4 linked regions of the Homo sapiens genome follow. The protein of the gene in region 1 purifies or fractionates together with the protein of each later gene. This does not show direct contact. Each region holds a gene or a part of one and is shown in the gene's direction. Other genes may lie near its edges.

Region 1 (5,315 bases):
GACTGCAGCAGATACAGTTATCATTTATGATAGTGATTGGGTAAGTTGGAAGTATAGCAAGGAATATGCTGATTATATTTCCATTTTGAATTTTTTTTTTTTTTTGAAATGGAGTCTCACTCTGTTGCCCAGGCTGGAGTGCAGTGGCACGATCTCGGCTCACTGCAACCTTCACCTCCTGGGTTCAAGTGATTCTCTTGCCTCAGCCCCCTGAGTAGCTGTGACTATAGGTGTACACCACAATGCCTGGCTAATTTTTGTGTTTTTAGTAGAGACGGGGTTTTGCCATGTTGGCCAGGCTCTCTTGAATCCTGACCTCAGGTGATCCGCCCACCTCGGCCTCCCAAAGTGCTGGCATTACAGGCTTGAGCCACCACACCCAGCCTCCATTCTGAATTTTTTTTTTTTTTTTTTTTTGAGAAGGAGTTTTGCTCTTGTTGCCCAGGCTGGGATTAAGTGCTGGGATTACCAGCATGAGCCACCGCGCCCGGCCATTCTGAATTTTTAATTTTTAATGGTACATGTTACAAATTTACTTATCTATTTTGAAAAGATACCCATTTTCAGCTAAGAGTTATTTCTTCATAAAGTTTTTTGCAAGTAAAAATTGAAAATTTTTTTTTACTTTTGTTTTTAGTGACAGGGTCTCACTATCACCCAGGCTTGAGTGCAGTGGCACCATCACGGCTCAGTAGCCTTGACCTTTTGGATTCAAGTGATCCTCCCACCTCATTCTCTCAAGTAGCTGGGTCTATGGGTGTGCTACCATGCCCACAAAAAATGTAAAAATTAGTGAGACCACGTCTCACTGTTTGCCCACGCTGGTCTTGTATCCTCATATGATCCTCCTGCCTTGGCTTCCCAAAATGCTGAGATTATAGGAGTGAGTCATCGTGCCCATCCTGAAATGTTTTCTTTAGGGTATTTAAACTTTTTTGTTAATATTGTCAAGGATCTGTGGAATGATAATTTTGTCTATGAAGCCACTCTGGAAGTTTAAATTAAGACACCACTATTTAAAAGTTCCTGGCTAGATCATTCATGTTGACTTTATCCACATGAGTTTATGTTAATTTTAACCTAATACCGTTAAATATTATTTTTCTTTTTAACTTTAAGAACCCCCAGTCGGATCTTCAGGCCCAGGATAGATGTCATAGAATTGGTCAGACAAAGCCAGTTGTTGTTTATCGCCTTGTTACAGCAAATACTATCGATCAGAAAATTGTGGAAAGAGCAGCTGCTAAAAGGAAACTGGAAAAGTTGATCATCCATAAAAGTAAATAACACTTATGTAGTGCTTTATTGTTTAAATTGTGCATTGTGTGTTGTGGATTTTGTTTTTATTTTGTTTATAAAATATTACAGCCTGGGCCGAGTTCTGTGTCTCACACCTGTAATCCTAGTACTTTGGGATGCCAAGGTGAGTGGATCACGAGGTCAGGAGTTCGAGACCAGGCTGGCCAAGATGGTGAAACCGCGTCTCTACTAACAATACAAAAATTAGCTGGGCTCGGTGGCGGGCGCCTGTAATCCCAGCTACTCAGGAAGCTGAGGCAGGAGAATCGCTTGAACCCGGGAGGAGGAGGTTGCAGTGAGCCGAGATCGTGCCACTGCACTCTAGCCTGGGTAACAGAACAAGACTCTGTCTCAAAAAAAAAAATATTAACAGCCTGATATGACAGGATTTAAATAAGCAGTGGGGAATTTGGGAGCCTAAACTAAGTTGGTCACCATAGACATAAAAGAAAGAATGTTAGCGAGTATGTAGATATGTAGATGAAGAGCAGATGGGCAGAGAAAAGGGGTCAAGGATAACTACATGTTCCTGATAAGAGATTGGCTTGCTAAAAGTTTTAAGATAAATATTTTGCAAGTTCCATGTATTAAAATATTAAGTGTATTTAAGTGTTATAAAAAATCTATTTATTTATTGAACCCACTGTTTCACAGAATATTTCACTGCAGAATGCCCTTTTTATAGTTTTGGACACTTTTTTTTCCTTTTTCATTTCCTTATCATAACCAGATGGGTCTCAACAATGCTTTTTAATCTAGAAAAAATTCTGAGGAGGTGGGGAACTGACATAGGTGAAAAAGTTTTGTTCCTGAGATTCCTTAGAGAAGTTATACTTCTATCCATTCACCATAAAATTTTCTTTGAATAAATGGCTTGATAGCTACCTGAAGAAATGTTGAAAATCATTTATGTAAATCATCAAGCCCTAGAGAAATGGGAACATGATAATGTTAATGTGAAAAGTAATGTTGGAAATCACTAATAATTTATTTTATACTCCTTTTCCACTTGTAAATACTTTCTCTGGGTTTTGAGGTAAGAGTGTATTAAGGTTTAGACAAAATTAATTTGGTGAAACATTTAGATTGTAATTGGAACTTGCATTGGGGAAAAAGCATAATTTTTTTTTAAGAGACCATTTAACTTTTTTACCCAGGTTGTTCTCGAACACCTGGACTCAAGTGATCCTCCTGCCTTAGCCTCTTCAAGTGTTGGGCTTATAGGTGTGAGCCACTGTGCTCAGCCCTATTTTCGATTTTTTAGTAGATTAATTTTGTAGAAAATTTTGAAGGGATTTTTTTAAATGCTGACATTTTTCAGTTGAGTTATTACATACATACAGCAAAATGCACAGATCTTAAATGTACAGGTTAATGAAGTTTGACCAGATTTATGTACTCCTATGTAACTATCATCGAGATCAAGGTAGCATTTTCATCATCCAAGAAATTTTCTTTGTTCACCCTTTCCAGTAATTCCTATGCTCCCCTTACCATCACTAGGAAGCATCCAGTATTCTGATTTTTGTCACACTGATGAGTCTTTTTTCTGTTTAGCTATTTTGTTGAATATATTTTTTCAACACAGAGTCATCTGTGTTGTTTTTAGTAGAATTTTTTTCTTTTAATTGGTGAATAGTTTGTTTTTTCCATTCTCCTGTTGGTCGACATTTAAATTATTTCTAGATTCTGGTTATTATGAATAAGTTGGTCCTGTACAAGTCTTTGTGGACATAATGCATTTTTTGGTCCTTGATCTTAGGGAGGGTGCGTGTTTAACTACTGGAAACTACCAGCCTTTTCCAAAGTGGACATATCATTTTCCAGTCCTACCAGCGAAGCCTGAGAGCTTCATTTGCTTTTATTTTTTATCAACACTTTTTTTTGCCGTCCTTCTTAATGCAAGCCATTGTGATTGGTTTGTAATATGTTGTATTGTAGTTTTAAAAGGAATTTTAATGTTTTTAATTTCTCATTTTTTTTAGATCATTTCAAAGGTGGTCAGTCTGGATTAAATCTGTCTAAGAATTTCTTAGATCCTAAGGAATTAATGGAATTATTAAAATCTAGAGATTATGAAAGGTGAGTTTTTAATTTTAGAAAGATTTAATTTGTAGCTTTGAATTATTCACATAGACTTGAATATTTTGTTTTCTATAGGGAAATAAAAGGATCAAGAGAGAAGGTCATTAGTGATAAAGATCTAGAGTTGTTGTTAGATCGAAGTGATCTTATTGGTAAGTATTATGCTTTTTTTTAATGGAAGCTTCGAAACATACACTTAATTAGCATAATGTAATGAACCCCTTGTGCAATTCATTCAGCCACATGTATCCAATCTTGTTTTATTGTCATTTTTCTTCTTAGAGTATTAAAATCAAATCTCAGACATGACATTTTGCCCATAAATGTCATTATCTTTAACTTCTTCCATAATTCAGATATTTTCTGTAAACTGGTAAATAACACTTGTAAATGAATATATTCAAGTTCCTGTCTTAGTTAAGAATACCAGTGCTTTGTTCTCATATTTTTCGTCATACCAGGAGGCACATCGTATCTGGATTTCTTATTTCCAGTGAGCTAAGATTAATCAAGATAATGTTATAAAGTGTCTTGTCAGCCTTCATCCTTTACTTAACACGATGATTTATTTTATTTTATTTTATTTTTTTGGAGACAGAGTCTTGCCCTGTCGCCCAGGCTGGAGTGCGCTGACACGATCTCAGCTCACTGCAACCTCAGCCTCCTGGGTTCAAGGGATTCTCCTGCCTCAGCCTCCCTAGTAGCTAGTATTACAGTCGCCTGCCACCACACCTGGCTAATTTTTGTATCTTTAGTAGAGACAGGGTTTCGCCATGTTGGCCAGGCTGGTCTTGAACTCCTGATTTCAGGTGTTGTGCCCACCCCAGCCTCCCAAAGCACTGGGATTACAGGCATGAGCCACTGCACCAAGCCTAACGTGGTGATTTTTAGTATCCCTTGAAAGTGGCTGATAAGAACCATTATTAACTTAATCATTGCAAAATGGTGATTTTTCTTGTTCTGTCATTCTTTTATTAGCTGGGTTATTTAAGAACTTTCCCTTACAGTTTCCCTGAGATAGAAGAGAGCCAGGATATATTGCTTCTTTTTTTTTTTTTTATCAGTTTTTAGAATACCACCTTATGATCTGATGCCTACAGTGATGACCATGAATTATTTTGAAAACAAAAATAATATTTTGTACTTCATAATTTCCTAATTATTTTACAACATATTACTGTCGTCTAGGCTATTGATTATTTGTCTGTTGCATCTGTATGGTGGAGATACTGTATAATCTTTTTTTCCCAACTGTATTCCGTGACATTTTGGTCTTTTGAAATTGGTGATGGCAGTAACATTCATATCACGGATACAGGCAGAAACTAGAAACCCCAGTCTTTGTTTTTAACAAAAAAGGGTCTTGCTTTGTATTCCTGGCTAGAATGCAGGAGTGCGACTATAGCTCATTGCAGCCTAAAAGTCCTGGGCTCAAGGGATCCTCCAGCCTCAGCCTTTGGAGTAAGCTGGGATTATAGGCATGAGCCATTGTGCCTCAGTTTTTGTTTTTTTTGAGACCCAATTGTTAAACATTTACCTGCGTGGCACTGGCTACAGTGTCATGATATCTTATTTTCAAATATGTTGTTCATTTTAAAATTCAATTCTGTGTCTTATTGAATCAAAATAAAATATATTGGTTGGAAGTTTTTTTTTTTTTTTTTTTAATCAGATGTATTTTCCAAACATTTTCTTCTACTCTGGCCTGTCTCTTCACTTACTTACTTAGTATCTTCTGAAGAGCAAAAGTTTTAAATTTTAATGAATTTCAATTTTAACAAATTTTTTTCTGTTCACTCATGATTTTTATGTCATCTGTAACTACTCTTTGCCTAATTCAAGGTGTTGATATTTTCTTTTAATAGTTTTATAGTTTTTGCTCTTACATTTAGATCTATGATCTATTTTCAATGAATTTTCATCTTTTTGCA
Region 2 (4,407 bases), about 25 Mb from region 1:
GCAGGCGGATCATGAGGTCAGGAGATTTGAGACCATCCTGGCTAACATGGTGAAACCCGATCTCTACTAAAAATACAAAAAATTAGCTGGGTGTGGTGGCATATGCCTGTAATCCCAGCTACTTGGGAGGCTGAGGCAGGAGACTCACTTGAACCCAGGAGGTGGAGGTTGCAGTGAGCTGAGATCGCGCCACTGCACTCCAGCCTGGCCTGGCAACAGAGCGAGACTGCATCTCAATAAATAAGTAAATTACTTACTTTCCTTTTATCCATCCTTTATGTTGGGGCATTATATTGATTTATTTGAAATTATGTGTGTAAGAGGGCCATATGGATTCCATTTCAGATGGTAAAGATGCACTACACATACTTGTATTGGGGGTGCATAGGGCCCACCTGGATTTATCTGAAAGGCAGCCTGGGGTTCAGTGCCAGGCCACCCAGGAGCTGATGCCCCTCAGCAAGTTGTTCCACCTTCTTTCTACTTTTCTCCTGTCCAGGGTACATTTCTTCCTGGCCTTTGCTGTCTTCTAAGGCACGCTGTGTGAGAAGGAGGAAAAAAGGGTCAGAAAAAACAAAAGCAATTGTGCAAATACTGTGTTCTTCTTAGAATGGTCATAATAACCTAACGTAGGCTCTGTGTAGGCTGGGCACGGTGGCTCATGCCTGTAATCTCAACACTTTAGGAGGCCAAAGCAGGTGAATCACTTGAGTTCAGGTGTTCGAGACCAGCCTGGTTAACATGGCAAGACCCCATTTCTACAAAAAGTGCAAAAACTAGCCGGGCGTGGTGGCACATTCCTGTGGTCCCAGCTATTTGGGAGGCTGAGGTGGGAGGATGGCTTGAGCCCGGTGGCGGAGGTTGCAATGAGCTGAGGTTGCACCACTGCACTCCATCCTGGGCGACAGAGACAGACTCTGTCTCAAAAAAAAAAAAAAAAGAGAAAGAAAAGAAAAAAAATATTAAACCTTAAACAAAAAAAAACCTAACAAGCCTATACACTGCTCTTACCCAGGCAAAATGGTTTTTAAGTATACAGTTCGGTGACATTAAGTACATTCACATAGTCGCACAGCTATCACCACCATCCATTTCCGGAACTCTTTTCATCTTCTCAGCTGAAACTCTGTACGCAGCAAACACTAACTCCACATTCCTCCCTCCCCCCACCCCAGCAACCACCATTCTACTCTCTGTCTCTATGGATTTGACAACTCTGGATACTTCATATAAATAGAATCATACAGCATTTGTCCTTTGTGACTGGCTTAATTCACTTAGCATAATGTCTTAAGGTTCATCCGTATTGTGGCATGTGTTAGAATTTCCTTATTTTTTTATTTTTATTTTTTGAGACGGAGTTTCACTCTTGTTGGCCAGGCTGGGGTGCAATGGTGCAAACTTGGCTCGCCATAACCTCTGCCTCCTGGGTTCAAGCGATTCTCCTGCCTCAGCCTCCTGAGTAGCTGGGATTACAGGCGTGCGTCACCATGCACGCCCGGCTAATTTTGTATTTTTAGTAGAGATGGGGTTTCCCCATGTTGATCAGGGTGGTCTCAAACTCCCGACCTCAGGTAATCTGCCCACCTTGGCCTCCCAGAGTGCTGGGATTACAGGCATGAGCCACCACGCCCGGCCATAATTTCCTTATTTTTAAGGCTGAGTGATATTCCATTGCATGCACACACTGCATTTTGTTTATTCATTCATCCATCCATGGACACTTGGCTTGCTTCCACCTTTTGGATATTGTGACAAATGCTGCTGTGAACACGGGTGACCAGTATCTCCTTTCAGTTTGTGTGTGTGTGTGTACGCACCCCAAGTGGACTTGCGGGATCATATGGTAATTCCCTGTTCAGTTGTTTGTGGAACCACCATGTTGTTTTCCACAGTGGCTGTAACATTTTACATTCCCACCAGCAGCCCGTGAAAGTTCTAGTTTCTCCACATCCTCGCCAACACTTGTTATTTTCTGAGTTGAGAATAGCCATCCTAATGGGTATGAAGTGGTATGGAAAGTCTTTTCAAGCATAATAGCAAAGAAAGAAATCATAAAGAAAAATGGCCAAATATAGCTACATAGTGTCTGTAAGTAAAAAAAAAAAGTAATCAAACTTAAAAGGCAACGGTAAACTGAGGAAGACATTTGTACTGTGTATGACAAGACGCCTAGCAGGGCATGGTGGGCTTTGGCAGGTCTGGTCTACACCTGCTCTTCTCCACCGGCTGTGTGCTTTGCAATACTCAATTTCTCCCAGCCTCAGTTGCCTTATCTTTAAAATGGGAATAATCATACATTCATTGGTTGTTTGAGGAGTAAGTAAGGTAATGTATGTAAAATATATGTTACATGGTAAGTCCTCCAAGAAGCCTGGCTGGTCTTCATTGTACCATCCCAGTTATCGTCTCTTTCAATTTAATATAAATAAGACAAATATATCAGGAGAAAAGTCTTGAGACGTAAGAAGTAGTTTATATGGCCAAAAAACAAATGGAAAAAAAAGAGATCATCCTCACTAATAGAGAATAATATAAATTGAACTACAGTCTTGTGATGCCTTCTTATAAAACTGTCAAAAGTTGTAAAAAAATGCTCTTTTCCAGTGAGGATAAGTGTGGCCAAATACTCTGCTGAAGAGTAAATGGATACAATTTTCTGTAAGGCATCTGGCAATGTGTAGCAAAAGCTCGTTGACCCAGAAATTTATCCTAAGGAAAAACATCAGAATTGCACACAAAGATTTATAAACAAACCTTATCAAAATGTTTCTTTATAATAGCAGAAAATTGCAATTAACTTGAATTTCTCCAAGCTGGCTAAAGAAATCATGGTGCATCCCTAGAGGGAATACTGCAGCAGCTGTTTCCAATCCTGTTCTCAGATAAGGCTGTGGGAAATTGCTCAATGCATGAAACAGGAAAGAGAAAGAAAATCACATATCAAGGATAATCCCATTTTGCATATCATGAGAAGCATACCAGCTAGGAAAAATAAACTGGAAGGAAATATATTAAAATGTTAATAGCATTTTCCTAGATGTTGAGATAGTGAATGGTTTAGATTTTCCAATTTTTATTTTGCTAGATTTGCCAAATTCTCCACAGTTTAACATGTAACACTTGCCCTTGACTCTGTCTGTGGATGAGTACAGTGATTGGGGGCGGGGGGCGTCCTTTGGACGTGGTCTCCAGGCTGCTCTTGTGGGTCCTGCTTCATCCAGCCCTCTGGCTCTTGTCCCCCACAGTGACCGATTAGCACTGCTCCAGGTCCGGGCTATCCTCCAGCAGCTAGGTCTGAATAGCACCTGCGATGACAGTATCCTCGTCAAGACAGTGTGCGGGGTGGTGTCCAGGAGGGCCGCACAGCTGTGTGGCGCAGGCATGGCTGCGGTTGTGGATAAGATCCGCGAGAACAGAGGACTGGACCGTCTGAATGTGACTGTGGGAGTGGACGGGACACTCTACAAGCTTCATCCACAGTGAGTGGGCCTTCCAGTTGGGATGCGCAGAGCTTGCTGGGATCCCTTTGGGTTAGGGGGTATCAGGGTGTGGTTTACGCTGGGGAAATGCCCTGCGGGAGCCCAGCCAGGCTGAAGGCTGTGCGTTCAGGAGCTGGGGATTGTCTAGGACAAGGTAATGAACAGTTTGTAGGGTTTGACTGGGATCCTTAGGGAGACAGAGAAGTGGCTTCACTTGGCCAGCTCACACCAGTGGCATGATGTGACCCTCACCCCACTCCTCCTGGTCCCCCTTAGGTGGGGGCTAGGCAGTGGGAGAGGAGGTGAGGGTGGGCGTGGGCTCACTCATAAGCCTGGTGAGCTGTAGCCAGGCCAGAGGCTCTGTTGGGTAAGTGGGGAGAGGATATTAAGAAAGGGGAGGAGCTGGGTGCAGTGGTTCACACCTGTAATCCAGCACTTTGGGAGGCCTAGGTGGGAGGACTGCTTCAGTCCAGGAGTTTGAGACCAGCCTAGGCAACATAGTGAGACCTTGTCTGTACAAAAAAATTTTGAAAATTAGCCAGGGATGGTGGTGAATGCCTGTAGTCCCAGCTACTCGGGAGGCTGAGGGAAGAGGATTGCTTGAGCCTGGGAGGTGGAGGTTGCAGTGAGCCCAGATCACGCCACTGTACTCCAGCCTGGGCAACAGAGTGAGACCCTATTTCAAAAAATAAAATAGGAAAGGAGGATAGCCACTCTCTTGTTCATCTGCTGAATCAGTTTGCTAAGACTTGGAAGGGCGGGAGCGGTTTGGGCCCTGGGCTTCATGGCAGGGAGGGGTAGGGAGTGGCCTCCCTCTGGTCAGGCATCTGACCCCCCATGCCAGAGAAGGACATGTGATTGCACTTGCTGTGTGATTGTGATCCACCGCATGTCTCACCTTATGAATAGGGTGACCATATTATTT
Region 3 (4,407 bases), on another chromosome or scaffold:
CAACCAGCCTAGTTTCCACAGCTACTTTTAAGACATAGCCAATATTTAAAGTATCTGCTGAACATTCAGTTCCCAGAAGCCCAGCTTTGGATGACTCCTGTGTCCTTGAGGACAATGAGTAGGGGAGACCTGGTTCCATCCGGGCCTCCGCTGCTCGATGGCTGTGAGCCGCCCAAAAGCAGCTGGCAGAGGCAATCCCTGCAGCTGCGAGAGGCCTCTCAAAAATGGATGCAGTGTGTTCCTCCCAAAACCAGTGTTCGCCCTCTTCTACAGAACTGAAGGGGCAGAGAAAATTCACTTTTTAATTTGTCATTTCAACATATATTTTTTCCTTTTCAGCCAGTACAGGCTACTCTGTCATCTTTGAAGATGTTAGATGTGGGAAAGTGGCCAATTTTTTCCCTTTGTTCTGAAGAAGAACTACAGTTAATTCGTCAGGCTTGTGTCTTTGGCAGTGCTGGCAATGAAGTTTTATACACTACAGTAAATGATGAGGTAATTTTGAAGAAAATAAATCAGCTACTCACATTTTTAGAAATGGATTTGCCAAATTGAAGATCTTGGGGGAACTAAGGAATAAAAGGTTAAAAAAAAAAGCATGGAAATTAGGTTTTATTTATTATATAAAGAAGCAGTTTGCTTAAGGAAGATGATTCCTGTTTGGATGTAATTTATAGATTTGTTAGAAATAGAACTGCTTGAACTAACAGTGGTTTTTCCCATAGATTTTTGTGCTTGGCACAAACTGCTGTGGCTGTTTGGGGTTAGGTGACGTCCAGAGCACCATTGAACCTCGGAGACTGGATTCTTTAAATGGCAAAAAAATAGCCTGCCTCAGCTATGGGAGTGGTCCACATATTGTCCTTGCAACAACAGGTAACCTAGGAACCCCATGTAGAATTTCAGCTTTATTCGCAGCTGCCCTTGAGAACATTGTTTAATTGGTTGAGAGTTGCTAGCTCTTCCTGTGAAATTGACTATGTTTTGGATACCATAAAACATGAATGTATCTGAATGCCAGCATAAGGTGATGTGGCAGATGGAATCTAGGAATCATTGGCATTTTAGATGTATGAATGACAACGCTGTAAGCCCAGTAAACACTGACGAACTGATTGTGGACTTTGGCAAGTCTGTCTGAACTTTGGATTCTTGATCTATGAATTGAAAGACTAAACCTTGTGTCCAACATCCCCCCGCCAACTCTTAGCATTCTGTGATTCTTACACTAAAGAGTGACTGATGGCTGTAGTTGGCATTAGTAGTAGGGATTAGCCACTTCATAAGGGATTGACTAGAAAAATTCCTTGCTCTGAGTGAAGCAAGGAGGAAAAAAGGAAGAAAATAAATAAAACTTCTCCCCAAAAGGTTGTAACCATGGATTTGTAGTTTAATTCACATCAAGACTGAACGGTCCAAGAAATCTCAACCCTTGAATTTATTCAAGGTACTGGATGGCAAGTGCCTTAAGGGCATGATAGAAGTTAATGCAGATCCTTTCTAGGGGAAGGCACCTTTATCCTAGGCCTGAGAGAATTAACCAAAATAATTGTTCAGTGGCAATAGGCAGCACATAGTCAGAGATAACCAGATATACAGTAGTCTCCCGTTATCCTTGGTTTTACTTTCTCAAGTTTCAGTTACCTGCAGTTGACTGTGGTCTGAAAGTATAAATGTAAAATTTCCAAAATAAACAATTCATAAGTTTTAAATTGTGTGCCATTCTGAGTAGGGTGATATTTCACCATCTTGCTCCATCCCAGCTGGGACATGAACCATCCCTTTGTCCAGCATCTCTGCCATAGACACTCCCACCCGTTAGTTACTTAGTAGCTGTCTCAGTTATTAGATTGACTCTCTTGGTTTCATAGTGCTTGTGTTCAAGTCACCCTTATTTTACTTAATAATGGCCCCAAAGTGCAAGAGTAGTGATGCTTGCAATTTGGATATGCCAAAGAGAAACCATACGGTTCTTGCTTTAAATGAAAAATGGAGAGTTTCCATGCTGAGGTTGTTAAGATTTATGGTAAGAACAAATCTTCTATCTGTGACATTGTGAACAGTACATTTTGTAATTGTTCTCTTTGATTATTAGTTATTGTTGTTAATCTCTTACTATGCCTAACTTACAAATTAAACTTTATCATAAGTATATACGTATAGGGAAAAACAGTATATACAGGTTCAGTACGAGAGTCTTAGAATGTATCTCCTGCAGATAAGGGGGGCTTGCTATGCAAGGAAACAAGGTACCATGAATGGGAACCAGAAGAAACAACAGACAGCAAGAACGGATTACTAAATATCAGGCATTAAAATTATCAGACACCAATTATAAGACAGCTGTATTTATTATTTGAAGAAATTAAAATGAGCTTGAAAATAATCTGCAGGGATTATAGAAGATTTGAAAAGATCCAAATGAACAATATGATTATCAATATGAAAATTCAGTGGACAAATTTTGTAGCAGTTTGAACACAGCAAATTAGTAAAATTAGTAAACCAGAAGATAAATGAGAAGTCACTATTCAGAATATAACACTAAGAGACAACATGCTGGAAAATACAGATGAAATGAGTACAAACTGTATGATTCCATTTATTTAAATTTCAAAAACAGGAAAAACTAAACATTTGTATGCAAGATGCATATGTGAGGGCCTTTTGGGGGGTGATTATAAGGTTATATTTCTTGACTTAAGTAGTAGTACATGGGTGTGTGCTTTCTAATTTGTAAAACTGTACATATATGTTTTATTAACTTTTCTGTATATTATGCTACCCAATAAATAATAACAAAGATTTTTAAAAATCAACTTGGTGATTATTTTAAAGATAAGGAAATTAAGACCTAGGGGAGTTAAGTGGCCTTCTAATATTTGACTTCATTCTAATGTTTTTGCTATTACTCCCAGCAGCCTTTTCTCTGCTCTTTATTAAAAACTTATTTTCCAGTTATTATAACTGCATGCATTTAAATTTCACCTTGTTGCTTTGAGGTAGAATGCAGTTTATACTTTCCAAATAGATTCTTTTGTAGAATGACTTTGGTGGAATGGGGAAGTTGATTAGCTTTTTGCACCTGAATTTTTAGATTTCATTTGTGGAAGCTGTGCTACATATATTTTCGTATAATGAAGTAGATGTTGTAAAAAACTGATTGTCTTTCTTTTTATTTTCAGAAGGAGAAGTCTTTACCTGGGGTCATAATGCTTATAGCCAGCTGGGCAATGGGACAACTAATCATGGTTTAGTGCCCTGTCATATCTCTACTAATCTGTCAAACAAACAAGTCATTGAAGTTGCCTGTGGGTCTTACCATTCTTTGGTGCTAACATCTGATGGAGAGGTGAGAACAGTCAGCATAAAGCTCATTGATTTTTTTCAATAAGATTATGTAGACTTCTATAGTAGTCCTGGAAATACAATCATTTGATTAAAATAACCACCTCCCTCAAATTCAGCCTTATTTTTGGTAGCAATTCACAGTCAGGGTGTTGATGTTGTGACATTTACCTGTACGTAGTAAGGTCTTCCATAATTGCAAAATTTAAAAGGAGGTATTGTTCCTTCTCTGTTGCTGTAGTAAAGAGGTTATTTGCAATAAGAAAAATCCCCAAATGCTGGAAAAGATGGCTGGGGCAAAGTAGATACTTTTGTGTTACATTTTATTTAATAGTAATTATTACTGTTTGTATAGATAACACCAATAACCTAATTGTATAAAATCATGTACATTGTATAAGAATGCATTTTATAAACACTTCTCTGCCTGTGTTGTGAGGATTTATGAATGTGAAGCACTTTGAGAGGAAAGACTCGGTGCCACAAGTACATGTCAGTGTCCAGTTGAGACAGTTTATAAATTAATCTGTTTCATTTACTGATCTTTCCTTTAAACAGGTATTTGCCTGGGGTTATAATAACTCTGGGCAGGTAGGATCTGGATCAACAGTTAATCAGCCAATCCCTCGAAGAGTCACTGGCTGCCTACAAAATAAAGTAGTTGTGACCATAGCATGTGGGCAGATGTGCTGCATGGCAGTAGTAGACACGGGGGAGGTAAGGAAGTTATTTTACATCTTGTTTAAAAACCGTGTTTGCCACATCAGTCTCATGCCAGTATGGTATGTCCCACATAACAGACAGCTTGCTGGCCATTTGTCTCTTGAGAGGATTGAGGGTCTCATTTTCTCTCAGGTCTATGTCTGGGGTTACAACGGAAACGGGCAGCTTGGACTCGGCAACAGTGGCAACCAGCCAACCCCTTGCAGAGTGGCAGCTTTGCAAGGCATCCGTGTCCAGAGGGTACGTCCACTGTCAGTTTGTGTGCGTGTATTTTTAAGTCTTCGCTGGCAAAGATATCAATGTATTAAAAACATAGATTTGTTGGCAGGATGAAAA
Region 4 (4,407 bases), on another chromosome or scaffold:
GGGTTTTAACATCTGTGTCCTGCCACTTTGCTAGCCTAAATATGATTTTTAATGTATCTCAGCTTCAGTTTTCTCACCTGTTAAAAAAAAAACAATAACTTACAGCATTGTTGTAAGCTTAATAACCTGTATATATATATATTTTTAATTATCACTAGGATGGCAATATGTCTTAGTTTGTCTAGGATAATCCCACTTTAAACCTGCGGTTCAGGCATAATTATTAATAGTACCTTCTTTCATTCAAAAAGTCTCTTGGTTTAGGTGATAAATTACGTGATCATCCCATCATAGTGCCATGCGTAGAATTGTCATGTAAATGGCACTTTTACTCATTATTATTATTAATAGCTTGGCATTAATATGCTTAGTGGACCAAGTACAATCGGGCAATAAATATTTAATGAATGCCCACTATGTTTAAAGTGCTGTTCAGCTGATCTGCAAAGCTATGGCTGTAAAAACACCGAAGGGAATTTTAAGTATAATTAAAAGGAGATTGGAGAGTTAAGAAATAGTTGATGACAATGTGCTTCTTTATGCTTTTCTAGGCTTACCTTACAAATTTGAAGTACAGCAGATGTTAGAAGAACCTCAGTGGGGATTAGTATTTGAAAAGACAAGATGGATAATAGAAAAATACAGGCTCTCCCATAGGTATGTACTGTGGTTTGAGATGGTTGCACATCTGCAGTGTTGCTCATTAAATTATGTTTCAGAGAAAACCCAAGTTAAATATAAAATTGTGATGTATGGCATCCGTGATAGTTTATTATGAAACTGATTAGTTTATAGTATTCGTTTCACCAGTTTGTTTTCATATTTCTTCCTACAGCAGCGTCCCCATGGATAAAATCTTTCGCCGGGATTCTGACCTGACTTGTTTGCAGAAAGTAAGCTGTCTTCATTTTAATTGGTTCCATTGTTCACAGATTCTGAAGCTATTCATCTCAATGTGTTTTCCCATGATGCCTAATACTTTGTGGATAATTTTCTGTATATTTCTTTTATTACTTTTTCCTTTGGAAAATTAATTTCTAGGAGATAATTAGTAACGTTTTTTGTTGCCCAAGCTTGCACATAGAAAAAATTCTATTTTAGAATAAATTTGTCAGTGTTGGCTGATTTTAGCAGATTATTATTATACACAATGGAGAACATTTTTCTTATTTTATTAAATTTGAAAGTGCCATGTTTCCATTTTAGCCTTAACAATTGGTCATTTTTAAGAATGATGGTATAAATCTAACAATTAAATTTAAATAGTCATTTTATTTAACTTTCTAATAGGAAATAAGAGTTTTGAATTCTGTCAGTTCACGTCTAGGTTTTGCTTCTGTAATGATTGAAGGCTAGTAGATCTGCAACATTTGTCTTTTTAAATAGCAATTGGGGATAGAAAATTTAAACATTAAGTTTCTTTTTAATATGTTTTACTCCTTTCTGTTATATCCAGTTTTTTGTGTGTTGTTGAAAAAGTATGTGCACATTTCCAAGGAAATAGACTCCAGCTAGCATCCTCATTTTGAAATGCAGAATCCTATGTTTTTATGTACCTAGATTTTTGTGTGTGTGTATACTCAGGATTATTTTGCTTTGTAAGTGTAACTACAAATGGAGAAAAGTCGCAAATACGTCCGAAGTAGAAAGCATCACATAAACAATCTCAGGTTTGTCTCCTTATGTAAAATCATAAAAGTACTAAGCTGAGTGTTCCTCAGCAGCAATTTCCTACATTCCAGCTCTGTGACTATTAAACACAAGTTAATCTTCAACCATTTTTAAGGAGAGTGTTTCTCATTTGAGCATTAGGAAATGTGAGGTCTGGAAAGGGACGAAATAGTGATAGTAATGCAAACCCTCATACTTTTTCTGTATTTAAATATAAAACTTTTCTTTTCAACTAGCTTTTGGAGTGTATGAGGAAGACTCTGAGCAAAGTGACCAATTGCTTTATGGCTGAAGAATTCTTGACTGAAATAGAAAATTTGTTCCTTTCCAATTATAAAAGCAACCAAGAGAATGGAGTAACCGAAGAGAACTGTACAAAGGAATTGTTAATGTGATTATTTTAAAGTTAAGACATTTTAATCTTGACACAGTAGATCTTACTTTCAAAGTTATAAACTTGAAGTGATTGTAGTTAACATTGGCACAGCTTTGGTATTTTTTCTCTATTTCACAAAATCCAAACTTTGCCACATAAATCATGTGAAAAGGAAGAGATACAAATTTGTTTTCATATAGTGATTATCAGAGTGTTCTGCAAACCAGGGTCCACCACGGTGTTCTAGTCCTTTACTGAGCAATGCTGTAGGCTGTGAAACTAAGCAACCTGGTCGGCTTTACTGTTGTGTTCAGCTTGGGATTTGGACTATGTCTCTAAGTCATTTCTTCCCTGAACTAGTCATTTATGTTCCATTGTGGTATCTCCTATTTCATTTAAAAGCACTTCCATTCTTTCCATATATTCTGCTGAGATTTGTTTATGGCTATAAATGAGATATGGATGGGTGGTCACTGAGATAATTAATATGGTTTAGAACTACTGATTAATAAATCTAACAGGAGACCAGGAGAGGCATGACAAGAAAATCTTAAAAACAGGAAAAACCCAAAGGAGAGAACTAAATTACCAGTTTCTAATCATAGATACTATCTTCCATTTCATTGTATAGCAGTAGTATCATAAGATATGCCATTTTCTCAGCTATCTGAAAATTTTTAACCAATTTTACACACATAAAATAATTAGCTTCAATTGTGAGTCCACTTACATTAGTAGGTGTGATAAAACCTCATTTAACTGGAACATAGGTAATCATAACTCAAACTTTTTTTCTACTGCCTACTACTAGGAGAAAGAGGCAAATGATAATAAAGCTGGAATAAATCAGAGATTTAATTTTTAAAACAAGCCTTTCAGGACATGTTACATATTCAGCCCAGTTTCATATGCTTTCTGAATCTATAATGGAGGTCAGTGAACTTTTTTAATGTAAAGGGCCAGTTTGTAAATAATTTTGGCTTTTCAGGCCACATATGATGTCTATGAGACATTCTTCTTTGTGTGTGTGTGTGTGTGTGTGTGTGTGTGTGTGTGTTTTACAGCCCTTTAAAATGATAAAAACCATTGTTAACTCACAGGCCTCATAAAACATAGGCTGTTGGCTATTATTCTCCAACCCTTGATCTAGAGAATTTTAAACATTAGAATTTTGTTTTACATTTGTTAAGCTTTACGTCATCTTCAAATGACACCAAAACTCAGAATTATGATCTGCATTTAAGCCAATTTTAAAATAAAATAAGCAGTCAATGCTGCCTCATTTATTGAAATTCAGTAGATTTTAGTTTATTTCTTAGTAGTCAGAGAATTGATTTATAGCTATTCACCAAACATTCTTACTAACGTTTCCTTATATCTAAATCAGATTGATTCTATATTTTGCTTTGTTTGTAATCAATAGCCAATGAAGAATAAGGAGTATTGGAAGAAGCAGTGAGTCAGCTTTAGGTGACCTGGTTCTTGTCTCAACTTTGTGATTTGGGGAGATACAGTTTACTTTCCCTGAGCCTTAATTCTTGTGTAACTGAAGTCTAACTTAACTTCTTAATGTCCTTCCAGAACTAAAATTTTATTGTTCATTCTAATCGTTGGACTACTCTTGTGAAGTTTATATTTTGAGTTAATACAGTTTCCAAATTAACATACATTTAAAAAAAAAAGGGTAGTATTTTTCCATTTCTCTGTGTGCACTTAGGATAAACAGTGAAGTATAGCTTATAAAACAATTAGTTTGAGGGCTGAGAGTGTAAGAGGAACTATACCAAAAGTCAGGAAACCTGAGCTCTTACCCTAACTCTGTTACCAACTTTGCTGTGTGACCTTAATCAAAACACATAACCTGGACCCCATGCTCCTCACCAGTAAATCAAGGGCCTGAATTTTATGGCTTAGTATTCCCTTCCAAGCTCCGAAGTTGCGTGATTCTGTGAAAGGCAGTGATTGATTCCTTTGTACTCATCTTCCTTTTGACCTGTTTCCTCATGATATATTGGGGAACAAATACTAAAAAGTGTTTTATACTAGCTTTCTTGATTGACATTTCCCTATAATACTGATGAATTTGGGTGATGGAAAGTAATGGAAATTGTTAAAAGTTCTGCTCTCAAATCTGAGTCTCCTTGCCCTGTGTGCCAATGTTTAACCATATTTGCTAATCTAAGCCATATTGCGAGGATCTCAAGGATGATACTTGTCAAGAGTTTGGGGCCTTGAGAGCACAGTTTTCAAAATAATACTTAGTATTTTCTGACTATAGAGTACATTTGTCTTGTAAAGTATATTTTAAAATACAGAGAAGTGTGAAGTACAAATATCTCAGTGCTACTATTTAAAAAAAC

What was found. The genes of interacting proteins can lie anywhere in the genome.
Region 2: the proteins of HELLS (region 1) and HK1 purify together in Homo sapiens (co-immunoprecipitation; one large-scale study listed by IntAct). This does not show direct contact.
Region 3: the proteins of HELLS (region 1) and RCBTB2 purify together in Homo sapiens (affinity purification with mass spectrometry; one large-scale study listed by BioGRID and IntAct). This does not show direct contact.
Region 4: the proteins of HELLS (region 1) and MYSM1 purify together in Homo sapiens (affinity purification with western blotting; one study listed by BioGRID). This does not show direct contact.

What each region holds. Positions count from the first base shown.
Region 1 is NC_000010.11:94,593,576-94,598,890, forward strand, and holds part of HELLS (lymphoid-specific helicase), read left to right. Parts: coding exon 1-40; intron 41-1,119; coding exon 1,120-1,279; intron 1,280-3,284; coding exon 3,285-3,381; intron 3,382-3,459; coding exon 3,460-3,536; intron 3,537-5,315. UniProt on the Homo sapiens protein: Plays an essential role in normal development and survival. Involved in regulation of the expansion or survival of lymphoid cells. Required for de novo or maintenance DNA methylation. May control silencing of the imprinted CDKN1C gene through DNA methylation.
Region 2 is NC_000010.11:69,395,347-69,399,753, forward strand, and holds part of HK1 (hexokinase-1), read left to right. Parts: intron 1-3,248; coding exon 3,249-3,482; intron 3,483-4,407. UniProt on the Homo sapiens protein: Catalyzes the phosphorylation of various hexoses, such as D-glucose, D-glucosamine, D-fructose, D-mannose and 2-deoxy-D-glucose, to hexose 6-phosphate (D-glucose 6-phosphate, D-glucosamine 6-phosphate, D-fructose 6-phosphate, D-mannose 6-phosphate and 2-deoxy-D-glucose 6-phosphate, respectively).
Region 3 is NC_000013.11:48,511,674-48,516,080, reverse strand, and holds part of RCBTB2 (RCC1 and BTB domain-containing protein 2), read left to right. Parts: intron 1-339; coding exon 340-495; intron 496-725; coding exon 726-876; intron 877-3,185; coding exon 3,186-3,352; intron 3,353-3,906; coding exon 3,907-4,065; intron 4,066-4,203; coding exon 4,204-4,311; coding exon of another isoform or gene 4,312-4,404; exon of another isoform or gene 4,405-4,407.
Region 4 is NC_000001.11:58,657,656-58,662,062, reverse strand, and holds part of MYSM1 (deubiquitinase MYSM1), read left to right. Parts: intron 1-551; coding exon 552-657; intron 658-835; coding exon 836-893; intron 894-1,907; coding exon 1,908-2,066; 3' UTR 2,067-4,407. UniProt on the Homo sapiens protein: Metalloprotease with deubiquitinase activity that plays important regulator roles in hematopoietic stem cell function, blood cell production and immune response.